4 separate regions of the Homo sapiens genome follow, and regions 2, 3 and 4 are each linked to region 1. Evidence: fine-mapped expression QTL. A gene starts in region 1. Each other region holds a variant in brackets. All regions are shown on one strand. Distances are between the middles of the regions. Region 1 holds the start of TNFRSF13C (TNF receptor superfamily member 13C). Region 2 holds the start of LOC105377203 (a long non-coding RNA gene). Region 3 overlaps WBP2NL (WBP2 N-terminal like). Region 4 holds the start of MIR33A (microRNA 33a).

The links.
Region 2: its variant is fine-mapped to the expression of TNFRSF13C in whole blood (TOPMed, PIP above 0.99).
Region 3: its variant is fine-mapped to the expression of TNFRSF13C in whole blood (INTERVAL, PIP 0.95).
Region 4: its variant is fine-mapped to the expression of TNFRSF13C in left ventricle (GTEx, PIP above 0.99).

What each region holds. Positions count from the first base shown.
Region 1 is chr22:41,923,448-41,931,536 of GRCh38, reverse strand. TNFRSF13C (TNF receptor superfamily member 13C) reads left to right here and starts at 4,731. Exons shown (of 3, transcript NM_052945.4): 1 at 4,731-4,899; 2 at 5,206-5,436; 3 at 5,983-8,089. The coding sequence starts at 4,764. The coding sequence ends at 6,170. It also overlaps a transcript of CENPM not described here. RefSeq lists enhancers at 1,512-2,121, 2,122-2,732, 2,876-2,945, 5,503-6,002, 6,003-6,504 and a silencer at 4,671-5,410.
Region 2 is chr22:42,146,751-42,154,850 of GRCh38, reverse strand. LOC105377203 (a long non-coding RNA gene) reads left to right here and starts at 5,351. Exons shown (of 3, transcript XR_938280.2): 1 at 5,351-5,572; 2 at 6,498-6,879. It also overlaps the pseudogene CYP2D8P. The variant G/A (reference allele first, on the strand shown) is at 4,949.
Region 3 is chr22:42,010,303-42,018,402 of GRCh38, reverse strand. All of the region lies in intron 1 of WBP2NL (WBP2 N-terminal like), which reads right to left. Among named protein-coding and RNA genes, the nearest start is that of WBP2NL, 16 kb to the right of the region's middle. RefSeq lists enhancers at 277-1,842, 1,041-2,714. The variant A/G (reference allele first, on the strand shown) is at 3,565.
Region 4 is chr22:41,894,807-41,902,906 of GRCh38, reverse strand. SREBF2 (sterol regulatory element binding transcription factor 2) reads right to left here. Exons shown (of 19, transcript NM_004599.4): 13 at 7,970-8,087; 14 at 5,746-5,855; 15 at 4,126-4,258; 16 at 2,409-2,577. MIR33A (microRNA 33a) reads right to left here and starts at 1,963; the gene lies at 1,895-1,963. The variant G/C (reference allele first, on the strand shown) is at 3,661.

The DNA of each region.
Region 1 (8,089 bases):
CTTCTCTCTGAAGACCCCAAACTATCTTGTTATTTTATTATTATTTTTTTTTTTTCTGAGATGGGGTCTCGCTCTGTCAGCCAGGCTGGAGTGCAGTGGCACGACCTCAGCTCACTGTAACCTCTGGCTTCCGGGTTCAAACAATTCTTCCTGCCTCAGCCTCCCAAGTAGCTGGGATTACAGGCGCCAGCTACGACACCCGGCTAATTTTTTTTTTTTTTTAAATTTCTTATAGAGAGAGGGTTTCACCATGTTGGCCAGGCTGGTCTCAAACTCCTGACTTCTGGTGATCCACCCGCCTCGGTCTCCCAAAGTGTTGGGATTACAGGCATGAGCCACCACACCAGGCCCAAATTATCTTTTTAAAAAGAGTATTCAGTGAATTAAAAGTAGAGCATGGTGGCCGGGTGCAGTGGCTCACGCCTGTAATCCCAGCACTTTGGGAGGCCGAGGCGCGCAGGTCGCTTGAGACCAGGAGTTCGAGACCAGCCTGGCCAACATGGTGAAGCCCCGTCTCTACTAAAATGCAAAAGTTAGCTGGGCATGGTGGCACGTGCCTGTTATCCGAGCTACTGGGGTGGCTGAGGCACGAGAATCGCTTGAACCCAGGAGGTGGAGGTTGCAGTGAGCCAAGATCGTGCCATTGCATTCCAGCCTGGGCAACAGAGCGAGACTCCATCTCAAAAAAAAAAAAAAAAGACTTGAATAAAGAAATTAGGCCAGGAGTGGTGGCTCATGCCTGTAATCCCAGCACTTTGGGAGGCCAAAGTGGGCAGATCACCTGAGGTCAGGAGTTTGAGACTAGCCTCCCCAACATGGCGAAACCCCACCTCTCCTAAAAATACAAAAAATTAGCCGGGCCTGGTGGCAGGTGCCTGTAATCCCACGTACTCAGGAGGCTGAGGCAGGAGAATCGCTTGAACCTGGGAGTTGGGTGTTGCAGTGAGCTGAGTTGGGTGTTGCTTATCGCACTGCTGTATTCCAGCCTGGGCGATAAGAGTGAAACTCCATCTCAAAAAAAAAGAAAAGAAATTAGGCCAGGCGTGTTGGCCAAGGTGGGTGGATCACTTGAGGTCAGGAGTTCAAGACCAGCCTGGCTAGCATGGTGAAACCCCATTTCTACTAAAAATACAAAAAAATTTAGCCAGGCATGGTGGCCCGTGCCTGTAGTCCCAGCTACGTGGGAGGCTGAGGCAGGAGAATGGCTTGAACCCAGGAGGCAGAGGCTGCAGTGAGCCGAGATCACGCCACTGCACTCCAGCCTGGGTGACAGAGCCAGACTCCGTCTCAAAAAAAAAAGGGACGCGGTGGCTCACGTCTGTAATCCCATCACTTTGGGAGGGCGAGGCGGGCAGATCTCGAGGTGAGGAGATCAAGACCATCCTGGCTAACGGTGAAACCCCGTCTCTACTAAAAATACAAAAAATTTGCCGGGCATGGTGGCGGGCGCCTGTAGTCCCAGCTACTCGGGAGGCTGAGGCAGGAGAATGGCGTGAACCTGGGAGGCGGAGCTTGCAGTGAGCGGAGATTGCGCCACTGCACTCCAGCCTGGGCGACAGAGAGAGACTCCGTCTCAAAAAAAAAAAAAAAAAAAAAAAAAAGCCACGGGGAAATAAGAATACATTGAGGAGTAAACTAACATTCCCCACATTGGTCTGATTGTGAATTCTTCTTAACTGTTTTGTCATCCAAGTAGCGACACAGGGCCTGCTGCAGCCCCCCACCCCCACCCCATTTAGGAGGCCCAAGTGGAAAGGTTCATGTGAGGCCAGGCACCTGCACACAACACAGACACGAATCCCGCAGGCCTTTTGTCCCGGCACCTGGCCCAGCACATAGGGAGCGCCCAGCAAACATTTGTGTCACATGAGTGGGTGTCTCATTTGTGTCTGCTGCTCTTAGCAGCTGGCCTCCCTCTCTGGCCAAGGTAAGGGACCCTGGAACTCTGACAGTGGGCTCCAGCCCTCCCACTCTCTCTGGCCTTGAGAGCAGTCTCCTCGAGTCTCTGCTGGGGGTCAGAGCAGCCAGTGCTTCTGCTGTGAAACGCAGACCTGGGGCAGGCGGACCCCCTCCTCCTAACTCCTGTAAATTCTCCCGACTCTGGCCTCACTGGGCCACCCTCTCCAGGGACAGGTTCCCCGTTCCTGGGTTCCCACAAGCCTCAGTCTGCCCACATGGCTGGCACAAGGGCTAAATGAGCTGCCTGGTACTCAGTCAGGCCTCTGCAGCCCTCACTAATGGGTAATACCAGCACCAACATGGATGGACGTGTATGTGGGTGGCAGGGTTATGGCTCAGTCTTCTGGCTTTGTCCCCACCTCTCTGCCTCACAGAGAGGCCTTCCCTGCCCTGGCTCCCCTCCAGGGTCCTGTCCCCCATCCCTGTACCGTACACCCACGCTCACCCACACCTGCCCCCACCCCCACATCACCATACACCCACGCTCACCCACACCTGCCCCCAGCCCCACTTCTCCTTTGCAGCTCCCCTCCGCCCACACCTTCCTGCCTGGGAGCTGCTGGCCCATGTACAGGGGATGGAGAGGGTGGGCCAGCGCCCACCAGTCAGGGCTGGCTGACTGGGGTTCTTTGTGAACCTTCAGGGTCTCCCAAGCTGGAAACCTGGGGGTCGGCCTTGCTCCCCTCACTCCATGGCCAGCCGCTGCATCATCCCCTGCCCTGGGCCACCTGCCCTGGACGTGGGCCACAGTGCCAGAGAGAGGGACCCTTGCAGGTACAGCTCAGAATCTCCCTCCTACCCAGACACCCCCAGGTTCTGTACTGCCCCGGGACTGGTGCCCTGCCCATCCGCAGCCCGGATGCTCCCTCCTCCCTCCCAGCATCCCCTGTGGCAGTGGCCATGCCTGCCCCCAGAGCAGCTCAGGCTCCCCTTTCATCTCTCCAAGCCTTAGCCCCTGCAGCCCTCCGCCTGGAGTGTTTGCCTCCCCCTCGCTGCTGCTCAGGGTCTCCCTCTGCCCCCAGGCTCCCTCCCCAGCCCCTGAGTTTCTCCTCTCACTGTGCTTCCCCAGCCCTGAGTGCTTAGGGGTCTGGGTGGCATGTGTGGCATTTAACCCCATGCTCTCTGCTGAGCCCTGAGCTCCCAGAGTTCCCTCCAGCCCTGGCCCTGGGGAGGGGGTAGCATGTGACCAGGAGGGCGGAGGGGCTTGTGTGTGTTTCTGAGACGCAGTCTGAGAGAGACACGGGTGACAGACAGTTGGGGACCCCAAACACTGGGGAGCAGAGATAGACAGGAGGGGCCCGCAGTGAGACACAGAGGTGAGCAGGAGAGGACACATAGCCCTGGAGAAAAGGAGCAGGTGTGGGCGGGCTTCCCTCCACTGCAGTCACAGTTCCCTCACTCATAGGCAGATCTTCCTGGGTCCTCCCTGCACAAAGCCCCAGTGGCTCCCTCGTGTCCCCCAGCCACAGTCCAAGCTCCCTAATGTGCTAGATAAGGCCCCAGTCCAGCCTTTCGGTCCCAGCACTCCCTGGACTTCCTGTTTGGGCCTCCAAGCCTTTGCTCCCCTTTGGCCTTCACCCCCATCTGCTCCCTAGACCTCAGTCCATCTGGCAAACACTTCACCATCGCCCTCTCCATGAAGCCTTCCGGCCCACCTTCCAGGATGACGTGAGCTGGTGCCCTTGCTGCGAGGCTGTCTTCCCCCATCAGCACAAGTGTGAGATTCCCTCAGGGCAGACCCACATGCTACTTGGGCCTGGTACAAGTGTCTGATGTCAGGCTGGGCACTGTGGCTTCACACCTATAATCCCAGCACTTTGGGAGGCCGAGGAGGGCGGATCACCTGAGGTCAGGAGTTCGAGACCAGCCTGGCCAAATGGTGAAACCCCACCTCTACTAAAAATACAAAAATTAGCCGGGCATGGTGGTGCATGCCTGTAATCCCAGTTACTCGGGAGGCTGAGGCAGGAGAATCGCTTGAATCTGGGAGGCAGAGGTTGCAGTGAGCCGAGATTGCACCACTGCACAGAGCCAGACTCTTTTTCAAAAAAAAAAAAAAAAAAAGCAGGTGTCTGATATCCCCAACCAGCTCTGTCCAGGAAGGGCAGGAAGAGAGGAGGAGACAGGTGGGTTGGGGGAGATGGCAGGGGAGCACTCGGGGTCATGGAGAGGCTTTGGCTAGACGGAGCAGAGGAACCACTCAGGGTCTGTGTCCTGGCTGCGGGGTCCATCCCCCTCCCTACCCAAGAGGAGGCTCTGGTCTGCCCCCAGACACCTCCCAGCACCCAGCAGAGGGCCCACCCAGGCGGTGCTGGTTGAGGGGCTGAATTGGGGAACCACAGGTAGAAAGAGAGGCCAGGCCGGGTGCGGTGGCTCACGCCTGTAATCCTAGCACTTTGGGAGGCCGAGGCAGGTGGATCACGAGGTCAGGAGTTCAAAACCAGTCTGACCAAGATGGTGAAACCCCGTCTCTACTAAAAATACAAAAATTAGCCGGGCGTGGCAGTGGGCGCCTACAATCTCAGCTACTCGGGAGGCTGAGGCAGAGAATTGTTTGAACCCGGGAGGCAGAGCTTGCAGTGAGCCGAGATAGCGCCATTGCACTCCAGCCTGGGCGACAGAGCGAGACTCCGTCTCAAAAAAAAAAAAAGAAAAGAAAGGGGGGCCCCAGGCGAGCTCGGTCCCACCCAGCAGGCGGGGGCGGGGCAGGGCAGAGTGCTCCCCCCGCCCCCCGCTTCCTCCCCGAGGGCCCCGGAGCCCAGCTCAGCCTCAGTCCCCGCAGCTTGTGCGGCGGCGTCGGCACCATGAGGCGAGGGCCCCGGAGCCTGCGGGGCAGGGACGCGCCAGCCCCCACGCCCTGCGTCCCGGCCGAGTGCTTCGACCTGCTGGTCCGCCACTGCGTGGCCTGCGGGCTCCTGCGCACGCCGCGGCCGAAACCGGGTAAGGGGGACCCACGGGGCGCGCGGCGCCGGCAGCTGCGGGGAGAACGGGGCCCCGATCGCCAGGGCGCAGGCAGAGCCCCGACCCCCGGGGGCGCCGAGGGCTGAAAGGACCCTGTGGGCAGGGCCTGGAGGGGCCCGCGATCACCGCGTGGCCCTCACCGCCGCCTCTCTCCCTCCCCTTGTCCACCGCCCCCCGGCTGTCCCTCCCCTCCCCGGCCAGCCTCGCCCCCCTCCGCCCCTCCCCGTCCCCGCTCCTCCCTCCCCTCGGCCCCCTGGCCTCCCTCCCTGTCCCCTCCCGAAGCAGCCGGGGCCAGCAGCCCTGCGCCCAGGACGGCGCTGCAGCCGCAGGAGTCGGTGGGCGCGGGGGCCGGCGAGGCGGCGCTGCCCCTGCCCGGGCTGCTCTTTGGCGCCCCCGCGCTGCTGGGCCTGGCACTGGTCCTGGCGCTGGTCCTGGTGGGTCTGGTGAGCTGGAGGCGGCGACAGCGGCGGCTTCGCGGCGCGTCCTCCGCAGAGGCCCCCGACGGAGACAAGGACGGTGAGTTCCGTGTGTAGGGGAACCAGTCTGAGCGGGGCGCAGGGGCTGGGGTGTCGGGACGGTCTAGGGGGAGATGCATGGCCCCTGAGGGGGAGAGAAGGGCTTTAAGGGGAAACGGAGACAGAGTGGAAAAGAGTTTGCGCTGAGGAGCTCAGGCTGGGGAGGGAGACATAGTCCTGCCCCTGAGACCCTGGTCGGAGCCAGGAACAGCTCTGCCCTGACAGACCCCAGTGTGAGGAAGAGACAGGTTGCAGGAAGGGGGCCCCGTCTGAGGGAGGAGTCTGTCCTGCCCTTTGGGAGTCTAACGGAGCTTGGTTCCCCCATAAATCCCTGAAGAGTTTGCCAGACTGAGCCCCAGCTCCCCAACTCCCTGCCCTGCCAGCTCCCCACTGGCCAGGCCTCTGGACTCAGGGTCAGCCAGGTGCCACCCCTCCCCACCCTGCATTGGGCTTCATTTGACGGAGGACTGCCCCTCCAGAGGAGTCTTCTAGGGGAGGGAGGGAAGGCTGTGACTGAGTACGGAGCCTCTACCCCCTCTGCCTGCAGCCCCAGAGCCCCTGGACAAGGTCATCATTCTGTCTCCGGGAATCTCTGATGCCACAGCTCCTGCCTGGCCTCCTCCTGGGGAAGACCCAGGAACCACCCCACCTGGCCACAGTGTCCCTGTGCCAGCCACAGAGCTGGGCTCCACTGAACTGGTGACCACCAAGACGGCCGGCCCTGAGCAACAATAGCAGGGAGCCGGCAGGAGGTGGCCCCTGCCCTCCCTCTGGACCCCCAGCCAGGGGCTTGGAAATCAAATTCAGCTCTTCACTCCAGCATGCACATGCCCTCTTTCTGGGACCAGGCTAACTCTGCAGAAGCACAGACACTACAGACCACAGCATTCAGCCCCCATGGAGTTTGGTGTGCTTGCCTTTGGCTTCAGACCTCACCATCTTTGACAGCCCTTGAAGGTGGTAGCCCAGCTCCTGTTCCTGTGCCTTCAAAAGGCTGGGGCACTATGAGTAAAAGACCGCTTTTAAAATGGGGAAGGCACCATTAAGCCAAAATGAATCTGAAAAAAGACCAAGTGGGAGGATGCCTAATTTGTAGTTGGGTGGTTTTTTGTGTTTGTTTGATTTTTTTTTTTTTTTTTTTTTTTTTTTTTTGAGACGAGTCTTGCTCTGTCGCCAGGCTGGAGTACAGTGGCGCGATCTCGCCTCACTGTAACCTCCGACTCCTTGGTTCAAGTGATTCTCCTGCCTCAGCCTCCCGAATAGCTGGGATTACAGGCACGCACCACCACAGCCAGCTAATTTTTGTATTTTTAGTAGAGACGGGATTTCACCATGTTGGCCAGGATGGTCTCGATCTCCTGACCTCGTGATCCGCCCTGCTCGGCCTCCCAAAGTGCTGGGATTACAGGCATGAGCCACCATGCCCGGCCTTGTTTTGTGTTTTGGTTTTTTTTGAGACAGGGTCTTGCTGTATCACGCAGGCTGGAGTGCAACGATGGGTCCCCAGCTAATTGCAGCCTGGGCTCAAGCAATCTTTCTGCTTCAGCCTCCTGAGTAGGTGGGACTACAGGTGCTCCACCTTGCCCAGCTAATTTTTTTTTTTTTTTTTTTTTTGAGACAGAGTCTCGCTCTGTCGCCTAGGCTGGAGTGCAGTGACGCAATTTCGGCTCACTTCAAGCTCCGCCTCCTGGGTTCACACCATTCTCCTGCCTGAGCCTCCTGAGTAGCTGGGACTATAGGCGCCCGCCATCACGCCCGGCTAATTTTTTTTGTATTTTTAGTAGAGACGGGGTGTCACCGTATTAGCCAGGATGGTCTCGATCTCCTGACCTCGTGATCCGCCCGCCTCAGCCTCCCAAAGTGCTAGGATTACAGGCGTGAGCCACCGTGGCTGGCCTTTTTTTTTTTTTAAAGACAGGGTCTCGGTATGTTGCCCAGGCCAGTCTCAAACTCCTGGCCTCAGGCAGTCCTCCCCGAAGGGCTGGGATTATAGGCAGGAGGCGCCGGGCCTGGCCTCTATTTCTTTAATACCTGCCCTCAGAGCCGTCCTGCTTTTAAACTGATGCAAATGGCAGCAGTGAATAATCAATTCATGGGTTCGCTTGCTTTGGGATTTAGTACAAGATTATTTTAAGAAATAACAAAGGAGAAAAGATTGAGCTGGATTTTGCTGATTCTCAGGTATCTGTACCCCAGGGTCAACCCTGAGATTGGCCCAATCTGCCAGAACCTAAGATGCCATTTTGACCCCAGTGGCAGCTTCCAGAGCCACAAGCCTGCATTTGGGAGGAGGTGCGCAGCCTCCAGGGCTGGACTCCAAACTCGAGCTGAAGGAACATGCTGGCAGGTAGCTCTCTCAGGGTCCACCTGGGGTTCCAGCTGCTCCAAGACACAGCACATTTAGCCATAAACATGGAAGGGCTGGGACCTACAGGAGGCTCCTTTGTGTAGAGGCCAGGGCAGGCGTGTGACCTTGAACCAGGTGGACATGAGGTCCCTTGAACTCCCTTCTCTCTCTGGCTTGTTCCCCTGAAGCACTGGCCCCCCAGTGCTGGGCTTATTTGGCCATCCTGTGCCAGCCCCCTGGTCACCCACCGTCACAGTGGAAGCTGCTCCCTCCTCTTACAATGGTGTTCCTTGCTCTGGGGTCTGGG
Region 2 (8,100 bases), 220 kb before region 1:
TCCAGAACATATACACCTTCAACCAGGTGAGGGAGGAGGTCCTGAGGATCCCCCACCACCAGCAAACATGGGTGGTGGGTGGAGCCACAGTCTGGACAAGAAGCCAGGCTGAGAAGGGGAAGCAGATTTGAGGGACTTCCTGGGGGAGGGCATTTATGCATGGCATGAAAGATGGGATTTTCCAAAGGCCAAGGAAGAGTAGGGCAAGGGCCTGGAGGTGGAGCTGGACTTGGCAGTGGGCGTGCAAGCCCATTGGGCAGCATATGTTAGGAGCACAAAGTCCCCTCTGCTGACACCAGAAGGAAAGGCCTTGGGAATGGAAGACGAGTCAGGGTCCTGTGTGCCGTTTAAATCAGGAAATCAGGCTGTGCGTGGTGGCTCACGCCTATAATCCCAGCACTTAAGGAAGCCAAGGTGGGCGGATCACCTGAGGTCAGGGGTTCCAGATGAGTCTGGCCAACATGGCAAAAACCGGTCTCTACTAAACATACAAAAAATGAGCTGGGCACAGTGGTGCACGCCTGCAATCCCAGCTACTTGGGAGGCTGAGGCAGGAGAATTGCTTGAACTTAGGAGGCAGAGGTTGTAGTGAGTGGAGATTGTGCCATTGCCTTGCAACCTCGGTGACACAGCCAGACAATGTCTAAATAAACGAATAAGAAATCAGGCCGGGCGCGGTGGCTCACGCCTGTAATCCCGGCCCTTTGGGAGGCTAAGGCGGGCGGATCATGAGGTTAGGAGATCGAGACCATCCTGGCTAACACAATGAAACCCGTCTCTACTAAAGATACAAACCAATTAGCCAGGCGAGGTGGTGGGCACCTGTAGTCCCAGCTACTTGGGAGGCTGAGGCAGGAGAATGGCATGAACCCATGAGGCAGAGCTTGAAGTGAGCTGAGAACACACCATTACACTCCAGTCTGGGCGACAGAGCGAGACTCTGTCTCAAAAAAAAAAAAAAAAAAAAAAAAAAAAAAAATCAACGGCTGGGCGCGGTGGCTCACACCTGTAATCCCAGCATCTTGGGAGACCAAGGTGGGGGGATCACAAGGTCAGGAGTTCGAGACCAGCCTGGCCAACATGGTGAAACCCTGCCTCTACTAAAAATACAAAAATTAGCGGGGCACGGTGGTGGGCACCTGTAATCCCAGCTACATGGGAGGCTGAGGCAGGTGAATTGCTTGAACCCGGGAGGTGGAGGTTGCAGTGAGCCAAGATCGCGCCATTGCGCTCCAGCCTGGGTGACAGAGCCAGACATGGTCTAAATAAATGAGTAAGTTAGAAATCAAGGATGAAGGGATATAGTGGACCCGGTTCAAACCTTTTGCACTGTGGGTCCTCGGGCCTCACTGCTCACCGGCATGGACCATCATCTGGGAATGGGATGCTAACTGGGGCCTCTCGGCAATTTTGGTGACTCTTGCAAGGTCATACCTGGGTGACGCATCCAAACTGAGTTCCTCCATCACAGAAGGTGTGACCCCATCCCCGCCCCAGGATCGGGAGGCTGGGTCTCCTCCTTCCACCTGCTCACTCCTGGTAGCCCCGAGGGTCGTCTAAGGTTCAAATAGGACTAGGACCTGCAGTCTGGGGGGACCCTGGCCTGATGGAGGCCCTGACCCAACGGAGGCCCTGACCCTCCCTCTACAGCTGCGGCACCGCTTTGGGGACGTGTTCAGCCTGCAGCTGGCCTGGATGCCGGTGGTCGTGCTCAATGGGCTGGCGGCCGTGCGTGAGGCTCTGGTGACCTGCGGCGAGGACACCGCCGACCGCCCGCCTGCGCCCATCTACCAGGTCCTGGGCATCGGGCCGCGCTCCCAAGGCAAGCGGCGGTGGGGGACAGAGACTGCGTTTCCGTGGGTCCTGGGTGGGCGGTGACCGTAGCCCAAGCTGGGCTGAGAGGGCGCGGGGTTGTGGGCCAGTGAGTGGGTTGGGGACAGCGAGCCAGGAAACCACTTCCATTGGGGAGGTGCGAGTCTGTGGGCGGGAGGAAGAGGGGCTTGTGAGTGGGCGGGGCAACTGCCGAGACCCACCAGGAACCGGGTGGGCGGAGCTGGCGCCTTTCCCAGCTGGAAGCGGGTGTCTAGAAGCCGGGATGGACTCTGCTGTGGGCTCAGTATGGGCGGGGCGGGACGGGCGGGATCTTCCCTGAGTGGAAAGGCAGTCAGGGTCGGAAGAGCCAAGGTGGGGCCAAGACCCAAGCAAGGTGAGTGAGCAAAGAGCAGGCCCTGTGCCCAGCTGGACAGGGCCAGGGACTGCGGGAGACCAGGAAAAGCACAGGGTTGGAGTGGGCGGCGGAGGGCGGGGCCAAGGCCTCCATGACCACGCCCATGTGTCCGTCCCGCCCCCAGGGGTGTTTCTGGCACACTACGGACACGCGTGGCGCGAGCAGAGGCGCTTCTCCGTGTCCACCTTGCGCAACTTGGGCCTGGGCAAGAAGTCCCTGGAGCGGTGGGTGACCGAGGAGGCCGCCTGCCTCTGTGCCGCCTTCGCCGACCAAGCCAGTGGGTGATGGGCAGAGGGGCACAAAGCGGGAACTGGGAAGGTGGAGGACTGGGAAGGCGACCCCTGACCCGCATCTCCCGCCCCCAGGACGCCCCTTTCACCCCAACGGCCTCCTGAACAAAGCGGCGAGCAACGTGATCGCCTCCCTCACCTGCGGGTGCCGCTTCGAGTACGACGACCCTCGCTTCCTCAGGCTACTGGACCTAGCTCAGAAGGGATTGAAGGAGGAGCTGGGCTTTCTGTGAGAGATGTGGAGCGAGGGACCGCAGGGTCTCTGCAGGGCGAGCTCCTGAGAGGTGCCGGGACTGCAGCCGGACCTCCAAGGAGCAGGGTTTGCATAGAGTGGTTTGGGAAAGGACATTCCAGAAGAGCTCACTGCTAGAGGAAGGGCCTTGAGGAGGAGGAGACATCTCAGATACGGTCGTGGGAGAGGTGTGCCCGGGTCAGGGGGCACCAAGAAAGGCCAAGGACCCTGTGCCTCCTGTCCACATTGGAGATTTTGATTTTTAGGTTTCTCCTCTGGCAGCCCAGGGCAAGGAGAGAGGGTGGAGGCTGGCACTTGGGGAGGGACTTGGGGAGGTGAGTGGTGGGGACAGGTAGGCCCTGGGTCTTCCCTGGAGGCAGCTGGGGCCTGAGACTGGTCCAGGTGAACGCAGAGCACAGGAGGGATTGAGACCCCGTTCTGTGTCAGCTGTAGATGCTGAATGTTGTCCCCCTCCTCCTGCGCATCCCAGGGCTGGCTGGCAAGGTCCTACGCTCCCAAAAGGCTTTCCTGACCCAGCTGGATGAGCTGCTGACCGAGCACAGAATGATCTGGGACCCAGCCTAGCCACCCCGAGACCTGACTGAGGCCTTCCTGGCAGAGAAGGAGAAGGTGAGAGTGGCTGACACGGTAGGGACCAGGGGTGGTGGGTTGAGCGTCCGGGAGGAATGAGGCAGGCAAAAGGTGGGTCCATTGGATCACTTGGCAAGTGGCACCTGGGCTGACAGGTGCAGAATGTGGAGGTCATTTGGGGGCTTTCCCGTTCTGTCCCCTGAGTACCCTCTCAGCCCTGCTCAGGCCAAGGGGAACCCTGAGAGCAGCTTCAATGATGAGAACCTGCGCATGGTGGTGGCTGACCTGTTCTTTGCCGGGATGGTGACCACCTCGATCACGCTGGCCTGGGGCCTCCTGCTCATGATCCTACGCCCGGATGTGCAGCGTGAGCCCAGCTGGGGCCCAGTGCAGGGGGCAAGGGAGGAAGGGTACAGGTGGGGGCCCCTGAGCTTAGCTGGGACACCCGGGACTCCAAGCACAGGCTTGGCCAGGTTCCTGTAAGCCTAACCTCCTCCAACACAGGAGGCAGGAGAGTGTCAGGGCTGGTCCCCTGGGTGCTGACCCATTGTGGGGACGCGTGTCTGTCCAGGCCGTGTCCAACAGATCGACAACGTGATAGGGCAGGTGTGGTGACCAGAGATGGGTGACCAGGCTCGCATGCCCTGCACCACTGCCGTGATTCACGAGGTGCAGCGCTTTGGGGACATCGTCCCCCTGGGTGTGACCCATATGACATCCCGTGACATCGAAGTACAGGGCTTCCGCATCCCTAAGGTAGGCCTGGCACCCTCCTCACCCCAGCTCAGCACCAGCCCCTGGTGATAGCCCCAGCATGGCCACTGCCAGGTGGGCCCAGTCTAGGAACCCTGGCCACCCAGTCCTCAATGCCACCACATCGACTGTCCCAGCCTGGGTGTGGGGTGCAGAGTATAGGCAGGGCTGGCCTGTCCATCCAGAGCCCCAGTCTAGTGGGGAAGGCAGACCAGGACCTGCCAGAATGTTGGAGGACCCCAATACCTGTAGGGAGAGGGGGTAGCGTGGGCGCTCCCAGGAGGTGTGACTGCGCCCTGCCATGGGGTCGGAGAGGGTGCTCTGGAGCTTCTCGGGCACAGGACTAGTTGACAGAGTCCAGCTGTGTGCCAGGCAGTGTGTGTCCCCTGTGTGCTTGGGGGTCCCAGCATCCTAGAGTCCAGTCCCCACTCTCACCCTGCATCTCCTGCCCAGGGGATGATGCTCTTCACCAACCTGTCATCGGTGCTGAAGGATGAGGCCGTCTGGGAGAAGCCCTTCCGCTTCCACCCCGAACACTTCCTGGATGCCCAGGGCCACTTTGTGAAGCTGGAGGCCTTCCTGCCTTTCTCAGCAGGTGCCTGTGGGGAGCCCGGCTCCCTGTCCCCTTCCGTGGAGTCTTGCAGGGGTATCACCCGGGAGCCAGGCTCACTGACGCCCCTCCCCTCCCCACAGGCCGCCGTGCATGCCTCGGGGAGCCCCTGGCCCGCATAGAGCTCTTCCTCTTCTTCACCTCCCTGCTGCAGCACTTCAGCTTCTCGGTGCCCACCGGACAGCCCCGGCCCAGCCACTCTCGTGTCGTCGGCTTTCTGGTGACGCCATCCCCCTATGAGCTTT[G/A]TGCTGTGCCCCGCTAGAGTTGCTCCTCAGCTGGGACCCTGTTGTACAATAAATTAGTCTAGTGGCTCCCACTTGGTTTCTGTATCCAGTCTGGGCCCCTGCCAAGGTCCTGGTTGTGTTGGGTCGTCAGTCACCTGCCTGATGTCAGTGCTCACCCCTCACCCCTCACCCCTCACCTCATTCATTCATTTTTTTTTTTTTTTTTTTGAGATGGAGCCTACTCTGTCACCCAGGCTGGAGTGCAGTGGTGCAATCTCAGCTCACTGCAACCTCCGCCTCCAGAGTTCAAGCGATTCTCGTGCCTCAGCTTCCTGAGTAGCTGGGATTACAGGCACCGGGTACCACCCCCGGCTCATTTTTGTCTTTTTAGTAGTGATGGGTTTCGCCATGTTGGCCAGTCTGGTTTCAAACTCCTGACTTCACGTGACCACCAGCCTCAGCCTCCCAAAGTGCTGGGATTACAGGCGTGAGCCACCGAGACCAGCCTCACCTCATTCACTCTTACCTGGACGCCTGACTTTACTTGAGATACAGGCATAGTGATTCTCAGCAGGAAACAGCCTGCCCCCACGTCACGCCCAGAGACCCATCACTGGCTGCCTGGCTTGGTGACAAAGTCCATGCGTAAGTCTTGGCTGGGGTGGATATGAATAGGCATATGCCAAGAATCAACCCATTCCCTGGCTAGGGTGGGAGACTGTGTTGTGCTCCCCCAGACCACCCTCAGGTTCAGTGATTTCTAGAAGGTCTCACAGCCCTAGAAAAGCTGTTATTCTCCCTGTTAACAGTTTATTACAGAGAAGGGTACAGATTAAAGTCAGCAAAGATGAAAGGCACAGGGACCAGAGTCCAGAATGACCAGGCCAAGGCTGCAGCTCTCTTTTCTGGTGGACTCCTACAGGCAGTGCTTAATTCTCCCCCAACAGTAAGTGAGGCAGCAGAGAGCCCTGCCAGCCACGGAAGCTCACCTGGGCCTTGGTGTCCATGGTTTTTGTTGGGAGTTGGTCATCCTAGGCTTGAGCCCCCGCAGCATGGCTGACCTCAGTTACTCAGTCTCCAGCCCCTCCTGAAGTCAGATGGATACAGGCCTGACGGCCCCACCCTCGATCACATTGTTGGCATAAACTGTGTTGTACGGTCCAAGGCCCTAGCTATGTACAAAGACACTATTTCAGGCAGGACATTCCAAGGCCTTAGCAGATATCTCCCAGCCTCCTGTCAAGAGTCAGTTTGGACTCTTGGTCCAGTGGCTTGCATTGTGCAAGGAATGACTTCCCCACTTTTTACTACACAGGCCACCCCTCTTGGCTCTAACAGCAAAATGATATTAGTTTGAGCATCTGTGTGTGTGTGTGTGTGTGTGTGTGTGTGTGTGTTTTCTTGAGACAGGGTCTTGCTCTGTCACCGAGGCTGGAGTGCAGTGATGCCATCAGGGCTCACTGCAGCCTTGACTTCCTGGGTTCAAGCAATCCTCCCATCTCAGCCTCCCTAGTAGCTGGGACTGCAGGCACATGCCACCATGCTTTGCTAATTTTTGTATTTTTTGTAGAGACGGAGTTTCACCATGTTGGCCAGGCTGCTTTCGAACTCCCTATCTCAGGTCATCTGACTGCCTCAGCCCCCCAGAGTGCTGGGATTACAGGTGTAAGCTACTGTGCCCAGCCAAATTTCCTTCCTAATTTCTTCATTGAACCACTGGCCATTCCGGACCATATTGTTTAATTTTCACGTGTATGTATAGTTTCCAGAATTCCTCTTGTTGTTGATTTCCACTTTTATTCTGTTGTGGTCAGAGAAGATGCTTGATATTATTTTAACATTTGTAATGTTTTAAGACTTGCTTTGTGACCTAACATATGGTGTATCCTTGAGAATGATCCATGTGCTGAGGAGAAGAATGTGTATTCTGCAGACTTTAGACGAAGTGTTCTGTAAGTATCTAGTAGGTCCATTTCTTTTGTAGTGCAGATTAAGTCTAATGTTTTCTTATTGGGTTTCCATCTGGGACACCCGTCCAATGCTGAATGTGGGGTGTTGACGTCTTTAGCTGTTATTGCGTTAACGTCTCTCTTGGGCTCCAATAACATTTGCTTTACGTGCTCCAGTGTTGTGTGCATATGTATTTACAATTGTTATATTCTGTTGCTGGATGACCTTCTTTGTCTCCTCTTACAGTTTTTTTGGTTGTTGTTGTTTGTTTGTTTTGTTTTGGAGACGGAGTCTCGCTCTGTCACCCAGGCTGGAGTGCAGTGGCGCGATCTTGGCTCACTGCAAGCTTCGCCTCCCAGGTTGACGCCATTCTCCTGCCTCAGCCTCCTGAGTAGCTGGGACTACAGGCGCCCGCCACCACGCCTGGCTAATTTTTTGTATTTTTAGTAGAGACGGGGTTTCACCATGTTAGCCAGGATAGTCTCAATCTCCTGACCTCGTGATCCGCCCGTCTTGGCCTCCCAAAGTGCTGGGATTACAGGCGTGAGCCACCACACCCGGCCTCCTCTTACAGTTTTTGTTTTAAAATCTGTTCTGTCTAAGTATTGCTACTCCTGCTCTTTTTTGTTTTCCATTGGCATGGAGTATCTTTTTCCATCCCTTTATTTTCAGTCCATGTGTATCTTTACAGGTGAAGTGTGTTTCTTCTAGACAAAAGAGCATTGAGCTTTGCTTTTTCATCCATTCAGCCACTCTGTGTCTTTGTATTGGAGAGTTTAGTCCATTTACATTCAATGTTATTATTGCTAAGCAGGGACTTACTCCTGCTATTTTGTTATTTCTTTTCTCACTGTTTTGTGGTCTTCTCTTTTTTTTTTTTTTTTTTTTTTTTTTCCTTGTCTTCCTTTTAATGAAGGTGATTTTCTCTGGTGGTATGATTTAATTTCTTGCTTTTTTGTGTGTGTGTATCCATTGTGTGTTTTTTCTTCTTTTCTTTTTGAGACACAGTCTCACTTATTGTGTGCTTTTTGATTTGAGGTTGCCGTGAGGCTTGCAAATATTATCTTATAACTCATTATTTTAAACGGATGACAACACTGATTGTGTAAACAAACATAAAGCAAAAGGAAGACTAATAAAAACTCTACACTTTAAGTTCATCTTAGTGCTTTTTAACTTTTTGTTGTTTCTCTTTTTTTGTTTTTGAGATAAAGTCTTGCTCT
Region 3 (8,100 bases), 87 kb before region 1:
CCTTCCCTTCTTTCCTTCCATTTCCTTCTTCCCTTCCCTTCCTTTCTTTTCTCTCTCTCTCTTTCTTCTGTCTTTTTTTTTTTTTTTTTTGAGACAGGGTCTCACTCTGTTGCCCAGGCTGGAGTGCAGTGGCATAATCTCTGCTCACCAACCTCCACCTCCTGGGCTCAGGTGATCCTCCCATTCAGCCTCCTGAGTAGCTGGGACCGTAGGCAAGCACCACCACGCCTGGCTAATTTTTTTTTTTTTTTTTTGAGAGAAGTCTTGCTCTTGTCCCCCAGGTTTGAGTGCAATGGCTCGATCTCGGCTCACTGCAACCTCCGCCTCCCGGGTTCAAACGATTCTCCTGCCTCTGCCTCCCAAATAGCTGGGATTAAGTCGCCTGCCACCATGCCAGGCTAATTTTTGTATTTTTTGGTAGAGACGGGGTTTCACCATGTTGGCCAGGCTGGTCTGGAACTCCTGACCTCAGGTGATCCGCCCGCCTCGACCTCCCAAAGTGCTGGGATTACAGGCGTGAGCCACTGCACCCGGCCAATTTTTTTGTATTTTTAGTAGAGATGAGGTTTCACCATGTTGCCCAGGATGGTCTCAAACTCCTGGGCTCAAGAGATCTGCCTGCTTTAGCCTCCCAATGTGCTAGGACTACAGGAATGCGCCACCATACCCAGTCCCCCAGCCTTTTCTTTCTTAATGATATATGTAACCAATGTATAATGATCATTAGGTACAATGTCTGCCTTCTTTGCTACTCTAGCCCTAGCAAACAGTGGGTGCTCTAAATAGTTATTAAAAGAATGAATGAAAGCATGAATACAGATCATAATGCAAACAATATATGACATACATAATATAAATGTATGTCATACATTTATTAGTAACAAACTGTCATAGCAATTTAGTGAAAGAAGAGATTCGTTTTAGTTGAAGTAATTAGGAATGACCTAATAGAAAGACTGCAATTTGAGCTGATTAAGAGATGGGTAGTATTCTGGCTGGGCACAGTGGCTCACGCCTGTAATCCCAGCACTTTGGGAGGCCGAGGCTGGCGGATCATTTGGGGAGTTAGAGACCAGCTTGACCAACATGGTGAAACCCCATCTCTACTAAAATACAAAAAGTATCCAGGCATGGTGGTACATGCCTGTAATCTCAGCTACTCGGAAGGCTGAGGTGGGAAGATTGCTTGAGCCATGGGGCACAGATTGCAGTGATCCACTGCACTCCACCCTGGGCAACAGAGTATGACCCTGTTTCAAAAAAAAGAGAGAGAGAGAGATGGGTAGCATTCAGTAGGTAGAGGTGAAGGTAGAGGACAATCCAGATGGGAAGCAAACAGCATTCATGGAGGTGCAGGAGCAGATATGGAAAGCAAACTGCATACTTGGGAGAAGCCTAGTGGTATGGCTTCATCAAAACACAGTGTGGAAGTGAGGTTAGGAGAAACAGTGAAACAAAGTTGGAAAGCTATGCTGGAACTACAGCTTAAAGACATCATTTGATAGGCAAGGAGAAACTGTGAGCTTCAGATTTCTCAACAGGAAAGTCACATAATCAAGAAGGTAGTGTATCAGAGGGATCAGTTTAAGAATTCCTAAAATAGTCCTGATGCAAGGTAAAAACTGGAACTAGGGTGGTAATGTGCAGATTAAAAGGGGAGGATTTTTAAAAGACTATGAAAATACAGGACATTAGCAAAAAACTGTGGAATGGGAATCTTTAAATGTCAGTCTAGCCATAAAAGCAATAAATAAAGCAAAAGAAAACCTGTCAGAATCAACTTTTTCAGAACTCTAGAATCTAATCAAAAGCTTATGGTAACTAGGGGAATGCTTAAGTAATTTTTTTAAAAAGCCAAATCTCAGTAAGTAAGCTTTATGACATTTTAACCTACCCTGGTATCATCCCCCACTACTAGCTTGGCAGCAGCTTTGAAGACAACAATCTATATTCCCATGATAGATACGAAGTACTGGAGGGAGCAGAACACACTTATTTTTAAAAATTGTAGTTTGACTTGTCTGGTGGCTCCTTGAAGGACCGGCTCAAAGGGCATGTATTTAATTTGTAATTTTCCCGGGACTGATGAGGCTACCGGGAGGCATTTGTCAAAAACATTTCCGGCCGGGTCCGGTGGTTCATACCTGTAATCTCAGCACTTTGGGAGGCTGAGGCGGGAGGATTACCAGAGGTCGGGAGTTCAAGACCAGCATGACCAACATGGAGAAACCCCGTCTCTACTAAAAATGCAAAATTAGCTGGGCCTGGTGGCATGTGTCTGTAATCCCAGCTACTCGGGAGGCTGAGGCAGGAGAATTGCTTGAACCCGGGAGGCAGAGTTTGCAGTGAGCCAAGATCTTCCCATTGCACTCCAGCCTGGGGAACAAGAGCGAAATTTCATCTCAAGAAAAAAAAAATTTCCAAGCCAATGTATTAGTTGCTGCTACCTAGCGAAAGGGATGACAACTGGGGCAAAAAAACAGACAAATTGAAAAGCTAAAGGAAAGGATGAGCAATGAGATGCTTTGAGGAATAAAGGCTTCGAAAAGCTCACACATATTCCTGAGAAACAAGAAAGCCATACACATACATGTCCAGGGCTAGATTCATACTAAAAACAAACAAAAAATGAAACACACACACACACTGAAGAGGCACTAAGCTTTCACCTCTGATTGACAATTAGAAGTGATGCAAAAAGGCCTCGGTGCGGTGGCTCACGCCTGTAATCTAGCACTTCGGAAGGCTGAGGCAGGCAGATCACCTGAGGTCAGGAGTTCAAGACCAGCCTGGCCAACATGGCAAAATCCCATCTTTATTAAAAATACAAAAATTAGCTGGGCGTAGTGGTGGGCGCCTATAATCCCAGCTACTCAGGAGGCTGAGGCAGGAGAATTGCTTGAACCCGGGAGGCAGAGGTTGCAGTGAGCCAAGATCATGCCATTGCACTCCAGCCTGGGCAACAGAGCAAGACTCTGTCTCAAAAAAAAAAGGAAATGATGCAAAAAGAAGTGAAGGTGAAGGCAGAGTTGTAAACTGCCTGGCTGAGTAAGAAAGGCACGCTCATGCTCCAACACACACAAAGCCCATCTGCAAGGGCTGGGAGATTTTGTTGTTGTTGTTCCAGACATAGAAGAAAATTTCTGTCAAATCACTAGCTGGCCACTGAGGTAACAGAACTGAGATTCCAGTGGCCACAAATAACAAAGAATACAGACTTTACAAAATTAGTACAGAAAAGTCACTGTACAAACAAATAACAAGCAACAAAAATATACCCTGAAGAAGAGGGAGATTCTACTTTCCAGAGTTACTACATTAAAATATTCAAAATGTCCAGTTTTCAACAACAACAAAAATCACTAGGCATGCAAAGGAACAAGAAAGTATGGGAATACACAGGAACAAAATAAATTAATAAAAACTGTCCCTGAGGAAGCCCATACATTGGATTTATCAGACAACACTTTAAATAAACTATTGTAAATATACTCAAAGAGTTAAAGGAAATGATGTCCAAATAACTAAAAGAAAGAATACAAACAAAGTCTCAGGAAGTAGAGA[A/G]TATCAATAAAGAGGCAGAAATTATTAAAAGGAACCAAACAGAAATTCTAGAGTTGAAGACTACAACTGAAATGAACAATTTAATCACTGGGGCTCAACAGCCAATTTTGGCAGGCAGAAGAGAGAATTATTGAACTTGAAGTAGGTCAATGGGAATAACGGTTACTACCTGAGTAACACAAATGGGAAAAAACGAAGAAAAAATGAACGAAGTCTAAGAAATCTGTGGGACACCATCAAACATACCAATATATCTAGAATGGGAATTCAAGAAGGAGAGGAGAGAGAGAAAGGGGAATAAAGAACATTTGGGGCCAGGCGCGGTGGCTCATGCCTGTAATCCTAGCACTTTGGGAGGCCACAGTGGGCAGAATGCGTGAGCACAGGTGTTCAACACCAGCAAGGGCAACATGGTGAAACCCTATCTCTACAAAGAATACAAAAAATTAGCCAAGCATGGTGGAGTGCACCTACAGTCCCACCTATCCAAGACACTGAGGTGGGAGGATTGCTTCAGCCTGGGAGGTCAAGGCTGTAGTGAGCCACGACTGTACCACTGCACTCCAGCCTGGGTGACAGAGGGAGACCCTGTCTCAAAATAAGAAAAAAGAATATCTGAGCCGGAAACAGTGGCTCATGCCTGTAATCCCAGCAGTTTGGGAGGCTGAGGCGGGAGGACTGCTTGAGCTCAGGAGTTTGAAACCAGCTTGGGCAACATAGTGAAACCTCACCTCTACTAAAAATTTAAAAATTTGCCGGTGGGGTGCGGTGGCTCATGCCTGTAATCCCAGTACTTTGAAAGGCAGAGGCAGATGGATCACCTGAAGTCAGGAATTCGAGCCCAGCCTGACCAACATGGTGAGACCCCATCTCTACTAAAAATACAAAAAATAGCCAGGCGTGGGTGGTGCATGCCTATAATCCCAGCTACTCCGGAGGCTGAGGCCGGAGAATTGCGTGAACCCAGGAGGCAGAGGTTACAGTGAACTGAGATCGCACCAATGCACTCCAGTCTGGGCAACAGAGTGAGACTCTCTCTCAAAAAAAAAAAAAATTAAAAATTTAGTCAGGTGTGGTGGCATGCATCAGTAGCCCCAGCTACTCAGGAGGCTGAGGCAAGAGAATCACTTGAGCCTGGGATGTCGAGGCTGCAGTGAGCTGTGATCGTGCCACTGCACTCCAGCCTACGTGATAGAGACCCTATCTCAAAATAAATAAATAATGGCCAAAACCTTCCCAAATTTAATGAAATACATGAATCTACACATCCAAGTGCAACAAACTCCAAGTAGAATAAACTCAGTTCCACACTGACATGCATTATAATCAAATTATTGAAAGCCAAATACAAGGAATCTTGAAATTAACAAGATAAGTGACTCATCACGCACAAGGAATCCTCAGACTAGCAGCTGATTTCTTTTTCTTTTTCTTTTTCTTTTTTTTTTTTTTGAGATGGAGTTTCACTTTTGTTGCCCAGGCTAGAGTGCAATGGCACAATCTTGGCTCACCACAACCTCCACCTCCCAGGTTCAAGTGATTCTCCTGCCTCAGCCTCCCGAGTAGCTTGGATTATATAGCTGGGATTACAGGCATGCACCACCACACCCAGCTAATTTTGTATTTTTAGTAGAGATGGGGTTTCTCCATGTTGGTCAGGCTGGTCTCGAACTCCCGGCCTCAGGTGATCTGCTCACCTCGGGCTCCCAAAGTGCTGGGATTACAGGCATAAGCCACCACGCCCGGCCAGCAGCGATTTCTTATTGAAATCATGGAGGCCAAAAGGAAATGTGATGACATATTCAAACTGCTAAAAGTAAAAAAACACTCCGTTGTTTTTTTTTTTTGAGACAGAGTCATGCTCCATTGCCCAAACTGGAGTGCAGTGGCATGATCTTGGCTCACTGCAACCTCCACCTCCTGAGTTCAAGTGATTCTCCTGCCTCAGCCTCCTGAGTAGCTGGGACTACAGGTGCGTGCCACCACGCCCAACTAATTTTTTGCATTTTTAGTAGAGATGGGGTTTCACCATGTTAGCCAGAATGGTCTCCATCTTCTGACCTCGTGATCCACCTGCCTCGGCCTCCCAAAGTGCTGTGATTACAGGCGAGAGCCACCGTGCCCAGCCCTAAAAACAAAAAACTCTTAACCAAGAATTCTATGAGTGGCAAAACTATCCTTCAAAAATTAAAGAGAAATTAAGACATTACCAAATAAACAAAAAATGAAAGCTCTTTACTAGTAGATTTGAAATACAAGAAACGCTATATTTTATAATATGTTTTCTGATTACAATGGAAAGAAACTAGAAATCAACAGCACAAGGAAAACTGCCACAAATATGTGGAAATTAAACAATACACTATTAAATAAATGAGTCAAAGAAGAAATCAGAGGGAAATTAGAAAGTACCTAGAGAAAAATGAACATGAAAACACAACATACCAAAGCTTATGGGTTGCTGTAAATGCAGTGCTAAGATGTTTATAGCTGCAGATGTGTACTTTAATAAAGAAGAAAGATCTCAAATCGACAACCTAACTTTATGCCTCAAGGAACTAAAGAAAAACAAATGAAGCCCAAAGCTAGCAGAAAGAAGAAAATAATAAAGATTAGAACAGAGATAAATAAAAGCGAGAATAGAAAAAAATAAGAAAAAAAATTTAAGTTCAACAAACTTGACAAACTCTTAGCTAGATTAAGAAAAAGAGAGAAGTCTCAACTAAAATCAGAAATGAAAAAGAGGATATTAAAACTGATGCCAGCCAGGCATGGTGGCTCAGCCTGTAATCCCAGCACTTTGGGAGGCCAAGGCAGGTGGATTACTTGAGGCCAGGAGTTTGAGACCAGCCTGGCCAACATGGCGAAACCCCATCTCTAGTATAAACATTCAAAAAAATTAGCCAGGCATGGTGGTGGGCACCTGTAATCCCAGCTACAAGGGAGGCTGAGGCAGGAGAATCACTTTAACCCAGGAGGCAAAGGTTGCAGCGAGCCAATATTGCACGACTGCACTCCAGCCTGGGCGACAGAGTAAGACTCTGTCTCCAAAACAACAACAACAAGAAAAACAACAACAACAACAACCAAAAAAAAAACTGATGCCAAGGAGTTACAAGGATTAAAGAGAAAACCAAGGACAATTGTATGTCAAGTTGGATAACCTAGAAGAAATGGATAAATCCCTAGAAAAACACAACCTACCACACTGAATCATGAACAAACATAAAATATAAACAGACCAATTAACTAGTAAGGAAATTGAATCAGTAACCAAAAACCTCTCAGCTAGGTGTGGTGGCTCATGCCTTTAATCCCAGCACTTTGGGAGGCTGAGACAGGAGGATTGCTCGAGGCCAGGAGTTTCCGACCAGCCTAGGCAACTTGAAAACCTCATCTCTACAAAATATATAAAAAAAAAGTTGGGTGTGGTGGCACACATCTGTAGTCCCAGCTACTCGGGAGGCTGAGGTGGGAGGATCACTTGAGCCTCGGAGATTGAGGCAGCAGTAAGCTGTGATCATGTCACATCACTGCACTCCAGACAGGGTGACAGAGTGAGAACCTGTCTCAAAAAGAGAAAAAAAAACCTCTCAACAAATTCTATTATACAAAACGTTTAAAGAATTAACTAATCTTTCTGAAACTCTTCCCCAAAATTAAAGAGGAAGAAACACTTCTAGGCTTACTTTATGAGGCCAGCATTACCCTGATACCGAAGCCAGACAAAGAAACTACAATAAAATAAAATTGCAGGTCAGTATCTCTGATGAATATTGATGTAAAAAATCCTCAACAAAATACTAGCAAACCAAATTCAGCAGCACATTAAAAGGACTATACACTATGACCAAATGGGGTTTACTCCTAGAATGCAAGGATGGTTCAGCATAGGAAAATGAATCAATGTAACACACCATATGAACAAAATGAAGGGAAAAAACCATGCGATCATCACAATCGATGCAGAAAAAGCATATGAAAAGATTCAGTATATTTTTGGCCAGGCGTGGTGGCTCACGCCTGTAATCCCAGCTCTTTGGGAGGCCAAGGCGGGCGGATCACGAGGTCAGGAGATCGAGATCATCCTGGCTAACACGGTGAAACCCCATCTCTACTAAAAATACAAAAAATTAGCCGGGTGTGGTGGTGGGCGCCTGTAGTCCCAGCTACTCAGGAGGCTGAGGCAGGAGAATGGCGTGAACCTTGGAGGCAGAGCTGGCAGTGAGCCGAGATTGCGCCACTGCACTCCAGCCTGGGCAACAGAGCGAGACTCCGTCTCAAAAAAAAAGAAAAAAAAGAAAAGAAAAGGTTCAATATATTTTCATGATAAAAACACTCAACAAACTAAAAGTAGAAGGAAGCTACCTCAACATAATAAAAGCCATATATGAAAAGCCTGCAGCTAACAGCATACTGAATGGCAAAAGACTGAAAGCTTCCCCTCTAAGATTAGAAACAAGGCAAGGATGCCTGCTTTCACCACTTCTATTCGACATAGTATTGGAAGTCCTAGCCAGAGCAATTAGGCAAAAA
Region 4 (8,100 bases), 29 kb after region 1:
AGCACCTACCAGGCCTCTCCCCAGACCAACACTCAGCAGCTCTGGGAGGAAGTGGAGAGCCCCAGAGTCTGGTGAACTCCGCAGGACGTGAGGGAACAGCTCAGGGGAGAACCAGTTCCTTCCATGGCCCCAGGAGGTGGGAGACAAGCCCTCCCCATTCTGCAGGTGAGAAAGCAAGGCTCTGACAGGGACAGCAGCTTGTATAGGGAATACAGCACAGGCAGGTGGCAGGGGCAGAAATAAAACCCTTGTGGGTTGAAGGCGCAGGTTCTTCCACCCCATGGGAGTCCCACCATGGCTGGCTAGGAGGCTGAGATACCCACAAGGTACCAAGGAAAAGCCTGAAGTGGCAGCAGAGCCTGTCGATGGGGCTGGGGGAAGGAGGAGGAGGAGTGGGAGAGGGAGACAGGTGTCTCAGAAGACAGAACCACAGAGTGCCTTAGTGCTTGGGGACTAGGCCTACTGACCCGGCTTTGCCACTTACTAGCTACATGACCCTGGCATAGGACTTAGTCTCTCTGAGCCTCAGTTTCTTCATTCAAAAAAATGTAAATGGCACCATCACAGGGCTGTTGTATCATATGAGAAGGTACTGCATGTGGGCCATGCATACTCTCTGCCTACGACCTATGGGGCTGGGCTGCCCACCCGGCTCGCAGTGGCACACCTGCACGACACCGAGCAGTGAGGAGTCCTTGTTGAGATGGGCCGCAAGCAGCCCTCCGGTCCTGATGAACTCCCTCAGGCTGAGCCTCATCTCACCCAGCCCTGGCTTTCCTCCTTCCCAGGACACTGGGCCTGAGGAAGACCCTGCCCTGTCCCTGCACAAGGCCTTGATCCTTGCCTACACTGTTTTCTGGCTGTTGTGTGCTTCAAGGGGATGTGGAAAAGGATCCCTCTCCTCAAAACCTGGCACTTCTAAGCTGTGCATGCTGCAGAAGCACCTGTGGGCATGGAGGCAGCAGGCCTATGTCTGGATTCTGCCCTCCGAGGGCCATCAGGCTGCATGGCGTTGTCTTCTAGGCTCACTTTCCTACCACAGAGCTGCTACCAAGGAACCCCAGTCCAAAGGGTGGCTGCAAGCCTCTCATTCCCCAAACTGAGCCTGTACTGTTTGGTTCTCTCATGAAGACAAATACGGAAGAGACTAATGGAAAGCCCAAAAGAGAAGGTGAAATGTGGCTCACCATCTGCCTTTGGTCTTGGCAGCCCAGGGCATTTGGGCACCCCCACCAGCTTTTTTTTAAAGATGGAGTCTCGCTCTGTTGCCCAGGCTGGAGTGCAGTGGTGCAATCTCGACTCACTGCAACCTCTACCTCCTGGGTTCAAGTGATTCTTCTGCCTCAGCCTCCTGAGTAGCTGGGATTACAGATACATGCCACCACACCTGGCTTATTTTTGTATTTTTAGTACAAACGGGGTTTCACCATGTTGGTCAGGCTGGTCTCGAACTCCTGACCTCAGGTGATCTGCCCACCTCAGCTTCCCAAAGTGCTGGGATTACAGGTGTGAGCCACCGCGTCCAGCCAGTTTGGGCCTTTTCTGCACATTGCCTGTCCCTGTAGGGGCTGCCACGCTGTCCTGGGTTCATCCCAGTGCCCAGGTCCACTGACAATATCTAGCTTGAAGTACTAGCCTAGCCAGCTAAGACCAAGCCCCAGGGAGTGGCTGAGAATCTGAATCTCCAGGACTCTCCCGGTCCCTCCCACTCTGGAGCTAAGGACATGTTCCCCGTAGACCAGGTGATGCTCCACTTTCAGCTGGGTGCCCTCCTGTTTCCTGGGATGGCTGTGACTTGGGCCCCAACAGTGGCAGCAGTGCCCTCTATCAGGATCCCCTCCCCCACCTGATAGGGCCTTCAGTCAGGGCAGTCTCTCGAGGGCCAGGCAGGCCTCTGTGATGCACTGTGGAAACATTGCATGGGTACCACCAGAACATGCAATGCAACTACAATGCACCACAGCTGCCCGCCAGGAGGTATGCGGCCAGCCAAGGAGGTGCCCAGGGTGGTCTTCAGCTCTGTTTGTGTGCCCGAGGGGGCAGGAACCCACTCCAAGGCTGCCTGCAGAGGCCTGGGAAGTCACGCAAACCGCTGGAGCAAATGCAGGTGAACCCCTGGCCAGCTGGGGTGCACCTGGGCTTACAGAGGCTATGGGCCAGCAGGACCTGGGACTCTGGGAGCCTAAGAAAGGTGCAGGTAGAAACACACTTGCCTCAGAGGCTGAAAAGGGATGAAAAAGGAGTCCACCTAGGCCAATAAGCCGTAACTTTTTTGAAAGGGGGCTGCTGTCCTGGTTTCTCTGTCTTTCGGATGGCCCCACCCGCAGGGTCAGCATGAGGTGAGTGGGAGTGTTCTCGTAAACCAGTGCAGAGCACCTCCCCCAGGGGCCAACTCAGCTCCCACTCACGTGGTTGAGGGCAGGGTCAGAGGTGGCCCCACTGACGTTGAGGCTGCTCCATAGGTGGCCACTGGCCCTCTCGCAATGGCAGAAGGAACTCTGCTGCCCATCTGCTTTCCCAGGGAGTGAGGCATGCATGGCTCTGCAGGCATGGAAGATGGCCTTCACCAGGGGGCTCCTGCAGCAGTGACAGGGAGTCGAGAGGCAGGTCACTATGTGTCACCTGCGTGACAGGCAGAGGGGCCCAAGCCAGTGACTGCCACGCCCCACACTGATATGACATGTGCATCTGTTGACTCCAATGCTGCCACTATGGCACCATGCCACCAGCTCCAGATCTGAAATGCCAGCCCTGAGCTAGGGTTAGCGCCCCACCCTTTAGCACCTTCATTCAATGCTGGAAGTCAGAGACACAGGCTTCACCATCACGTCTGCTGCTAAGAAGCCACCCAAGATAGTCATTCCAACGTGTGCCTCAGTTTCCTTACCTATAAAGTGGCCACAATAAGGTGTTGTACCCGTTCTTTAAGGGACCACCCCCCCAGAGATGTGGTATTAAACTCTCTGGAGATACTTAGTTAGCTTCTTTCTGTAGAGGAGACTGGGAGTGGAAGGGGAGGCTAGGGATGGGGGAGGGTTCTCATAGCATCCTAGTCCCTGAAAAGCAGAGGGACCCAGGGGTAAGTGAATCCAGCAGGCAGCAGTGCCTGCAGGGGTGTCTTGGCTGTCCATGGAAGCTCTGCTGCTCTGGAGCGAGGTGACTTTGGACAACTTACCTGCTGAGTCTCAGTGTCCTCAGGCACATCGACTGGGGGAGACACACATACAGGTGGAATGCTATACCGGGCTGGGTGCTTACCTAGTCAGAGTGCTTACAAATGGGGCTACTTCAATGAAATTAGGGTGTCACATCTACTTCAGGGAACAAAGGACTTCAAGCCTGTGTATACTCACTCTTCTCAGCTCCTTCCTGTGCGCCGGTTAAGGGTCTGCTTGATAGGAAATGCTACAGCCTTGGCTCTAAGGATAGGACCTCGTGGGGCCTTTCTGTCTTGGAGCATTTTACAGTTTCTCTTAGAATACTCAGATCCAATTAGAAACAGCCGGGGAGTCAGCAGGCAGGGCTGCCCATCACTAGTGCCGAATGCCCCCAAGACGCAGACATGAATCTCCAAAGAGGAATGTCAAAAGCTCTCCGGTTATGCCATGTGCTAAAGGCTATTTTAGTTACAGGACAAAGTTGCCAGGGTTGATGGTGGGG[G/C]TGGAGGTGGCTGGAAGGAAAGTGGATAAAATGCTAGCACACAGGGGCAAGATGCTCCAGTGCACATGAGTTTTGGGGGCAACAGTGGCCTCTCTGCACTGATTGTGAACCACCAGTGCCTGCCTCCACCACAAAGCTTCTGAAGATGCTGGGGGCCACACTGCTCTCGTCTCTTCTTTTCAGCCTGTGGCGCCATGAAGGCTGCAGGGAGGAGGACCCGGACACAGTGCTGACAGCTGCTGGGACAACTGTCGTGTTGTGCAGAGCAGGACACTTGCACAGAGGACCTGCTGGCCCAACTTGAGTTCTCCATGGTGCCCTCACCCCCGACTTTTCTAGCCGCCCACCTGTCATGCAGTCCTGACCCTTCACCCCAACACGCCCACCCAGTCCAGTTTGCTCCTGCTAACTCAAACAAGATTCCCCTGGAGAGAAGCAAGTGAGTGGCCAAGGAGGGTTACGCACTCTGTCACTTCCAGGGCCTTGGGGATGCGTTCCACTTTGGTAAAATGAGAGCGCACAGCTGCATCGTCTCCCTGGAGCCAGCTGATGGCCACAGTGATTGCAGACGTCCACCACCGACAGATGATGTCTGGACCTAGAGGAGAACAGCACCAAACGCACTCCAGCACCCACAGAAACGAGACCTGTGGCGCTCAGAGGCTGCTACACTTCCTTCCTAGGAGATGGGTAACATCTTTGCCTGCTGGGAACGGGCCAGCAGCCTCTGGGCTCCCACACCCAGGATTCTGGGGGAGGGGAATAGACCAGCACAATCTTGGAAAGTGTTTGGCAATATATATCAAGAGCCTTAAAAATGTTCATTCCTGGTTGGCCGCGGTGGCTCACGCCTGTAATCCCAGCATTTTGGGAGGCTGAGGCAGGTGGATCACCTGAGGTCAGGAGTTTGAGACCAGCCTGGCCAACATGGTGAAACCCCCTCTCTACTAAAAATACACAAAAAAATTAGCTGGGCATGGTGGCGGGTGACTGTAATCCCAGCTACTAGGGAGGCTGAGGCAAGAGAATCGCTTGAACCTCGGTGCGGGCGGAGGTTGCAGTGAGCCGAGATCGTGCCATTGCACTCCAGCCTGGGCAACAAGAGTAAGACTCCGTCTCAAAAAAAATAAAAAAGTTCACTCCCGTTAAGCTAGTAATCCCATTTTTGGCAGTCTGTCATAATGAAACTGGCTTAGAGAGAAAAAAGTTTAACACATATTTGACTGCAGTGTTGTTTTTAAATAAAAAGATGGATACAACCTAAGCTTTCAATAGCCATAAAGAATGGTATCTTCAAAGTATCTGGAACAGGCTCCTGTTAGAATATTTTAAGTCTTCTCCTCTCTCAGCCTTAGTTTTCTCAACTGCAAAATGATGACAGTAGTGATCCCACAAAACCAGCGGGGATGGTCATGCTTCCCTAAACTTGAAAACAGAGGCCACAGGTCAGGGATCATGATAGGGTGGCTGATTTTCTGGGATCCCTCCCTCCCTAGGGAGAGTGACCAGCGGTAGCTTGGTACCCCCATCTTCCAGGGTGGCCACAGAAGCCCAAGAGTTGGCAGCTGATGTGCTATCATCCTGATGGCAGTTTAGGGACAGAAGCAAAGAAATGTCATGATGTCAATCCAGTCAGTGGGCTGTGCTGTGACACTGATGTGATGAGGGGCTGAGGAGTGGTAGAGAGGCCCAGATGAAAAGTCTCTTCAGCAAAGAGCATAAGGCCCAAGAGCTGCCTCAGGGGCCACTGTGCATCTGAAAGGTGACTCCCCACCATCCCTGGTGCCTGGGCCACTCATTGCTTGTTCTTCTGGGCATTAAGAAGGGTCCTCACCTGGGTCACACAGCTAGGGCTTGAGGAAGACATTCAATTACTCATTGCCCTACTTCTCTGAAAACCATAGTTTCCTGCCTCTGAGTGCTGTTTGGGAGGGGGTGACTGTGAACTGGAGCCACAGGTATGAACCTGGGATCCAGAGAAGATGCTGGCATCTACACTCCTAACGCCCTGGACCCCTGGGGCAAAAGCACTGTGAAGACCTGAACTGAGCACCCTGAGACTGTGGGCCACCCGCAGGTGCTTACCCAGGGCGGACTTGAGCACGGAGCTCCTGGAGAGTGGGGGGCTCATAACCCCCACAGAGTCCACAAAAGAATGAAGTAATTTCAAGTACTCCAGAGCACTGGAGAATTCACTAGGAAGAAAAGAAAGGGTCCCATGTACATCAAAACATATACACAAGGCCCACCTCATGGCCTAGCTGTTCAGCTCTCCAGCTCTAAGACCCAATGGCCATTTCTGTCCCTTTCCTGTCATCCCAGGCACACGCAAGCGCTGTCTATGTGTACCCTTTGTATTCCTCAGGCATCCTTCCTCCGTGTCTCTGGGCTGTCACTGACACTCTTCCCTCTACTGGGGGCCTTTCCCTAGCATCCCCCACAGCCTACCCTCACTCCTCTCCTTAAGCCCCAAGTCCAGTGTCATCTCCTCCCAAAAGTTTTCTTATCTCCCAGGCAGAACTGCCCCCTCCCCCTCTCCTCAGGTGCACCCTAATCAGGATCTGGGCCTTGTAGGAAAGTGACTTTGGGGCCGGGCACGGTGGCTCACGCCTGTAATCCCAGCACTTTGGGAGGCCAAGGCAGGCAGATCACTTGAGGTCAGGAGTTCCAGACCAGCCTGACCAATGGTGAAACTCTGCCTCTACCAAGAAATACAAAAATGAGTCGGGCATGGTGGCGCGTGCCTGTAATTCCAGCTACTTGGGAGGCTGAGGCAGGAGAACCGCTTGAACCCAGGAGGCAGAGGTTGCAGTGAGCCAAGACTGTACCACTACATTCCAGCCTGGGTGACAGAGTGAGACACTGTCTCAAAAAACCCCCCAAAAAACAAACAAAAATAACAAAAAACAAAAGTGACTTTGGCACCTATCTGCCTCTCAGGTCTTACTCTGTGAAAGAAGGACTGTGCTCAGTAAGTATGTCAGAGAGAAAAATTGCCCGGCACATTCCATGAGGGGCTGGGTCCCCAAGATGTCCAGGCCAGATGTGTCTGCCTTCTGCTGAGCTCGTCACATTTCATTCCCATCCCCTTTCTTTTTTTTTTTTTGAGACAGAGTCTAGCTCTGTCACCCAGGCTGGAGTGCAGTGGCGCAATCTTGGCTCACTGCAAGCTCCGCCTCCCGGATTCATGCCATTCTCCTGCCTCAGCCTCCGGAATAGCTGGGACCACAGGCGCCCGCCACCACGCCTGGCTAATTTTTTGTATTTTTAGTAGACGGGGTTTCACCGTGTTAGCCAGGATGGTCTCGATCTCCTGACCTCGTGATCTGCCCACCTTGGCCTCCCACCCAAAGTGCTGGGATTACAGACGTGAGCCACTGCACCCAGCCCCCATCCCCTTTCAACAGGCCCCTGCTCCCTACCCCAAAAAGCAGAGCAAGCTAATGAAATCCCTGACTTGGTCCAAGTACTGACTCCGCTTGGTAAAGGGATACATAAAAATGGGTGCACCTGCCAGGCGTGGTGGCTCATGCCTGTAATCCCAGCACTTTGGGAGGCCGAGGCAGGCGGATTGCCCGAGATCAGGAGTTCAAGACCAGCCTGAATGACATGGTGAAACCTCATCTCTACTAAAAGTACAAAAATTAGCCAGGCATGGTGGTGGGCGCCTGTAATCCCAGCTACTTGGGAGGCTAAGGCAGAAGAATCACTTGAACCCGGGAGGCAGAGGTTGCAGTGAGCTGAGACTGGTCCATTGCACTCCAGCCTGGGCAACAAGAGCGAAACTCCATCTCAAAAAAAAAAAAAAAAAAAAAGGCCTGGGCATGGTGGCTCACGCCTGTAATCCCAGCACTTTGGGAGGCTGAGGCAGGCGGATCACGAGGTCGAGACCATCCTGGCTAACATGGTGAAACCTCGTCTCTACTAAAAATACAAAAAATTAGCCGGGCATGGTGGCAGGCGCCTGTAGTCCCAGCTACTCAGGAGGCTGACACAGAAGAATGGCGTGAACCCAGGAGGCAGAGCTTGCAGTGTGCCAAGATTGCGCCACTGCACTCCAACCTGAGTGACAGAGCGAGACTCCGTCTCCAAAAAAAAAAAAAAAACGCACTTGGTCTAGGAGGAAAGGCCAGGTCAGAGTTAACATAGGGCTCTCATTTTTGAGAAATTAAATACAAAGGAACCATTTGATTGCCCTGCCAACCCGATGCCAGGCTTGTTTCCCTCCAGGAGTGCAGGCCTTCAGGCTGTCCTGGAGTTGCCTGCGTGGACAGGTCCTAAGGCAGGGGGACTGGTCTGGGGACTTTACCAGCTCTCTTCTTCCTGGTCTCCAGCCTTCTTCTTGGCCTGAGGTTTCACCAAGGACTCTATAGCTCGCTCCAGCAGGTTCTTGCAGAAGGCCTGGTGGACCTGCGCAATGGGGTCAGCTGGAAAAGAGAC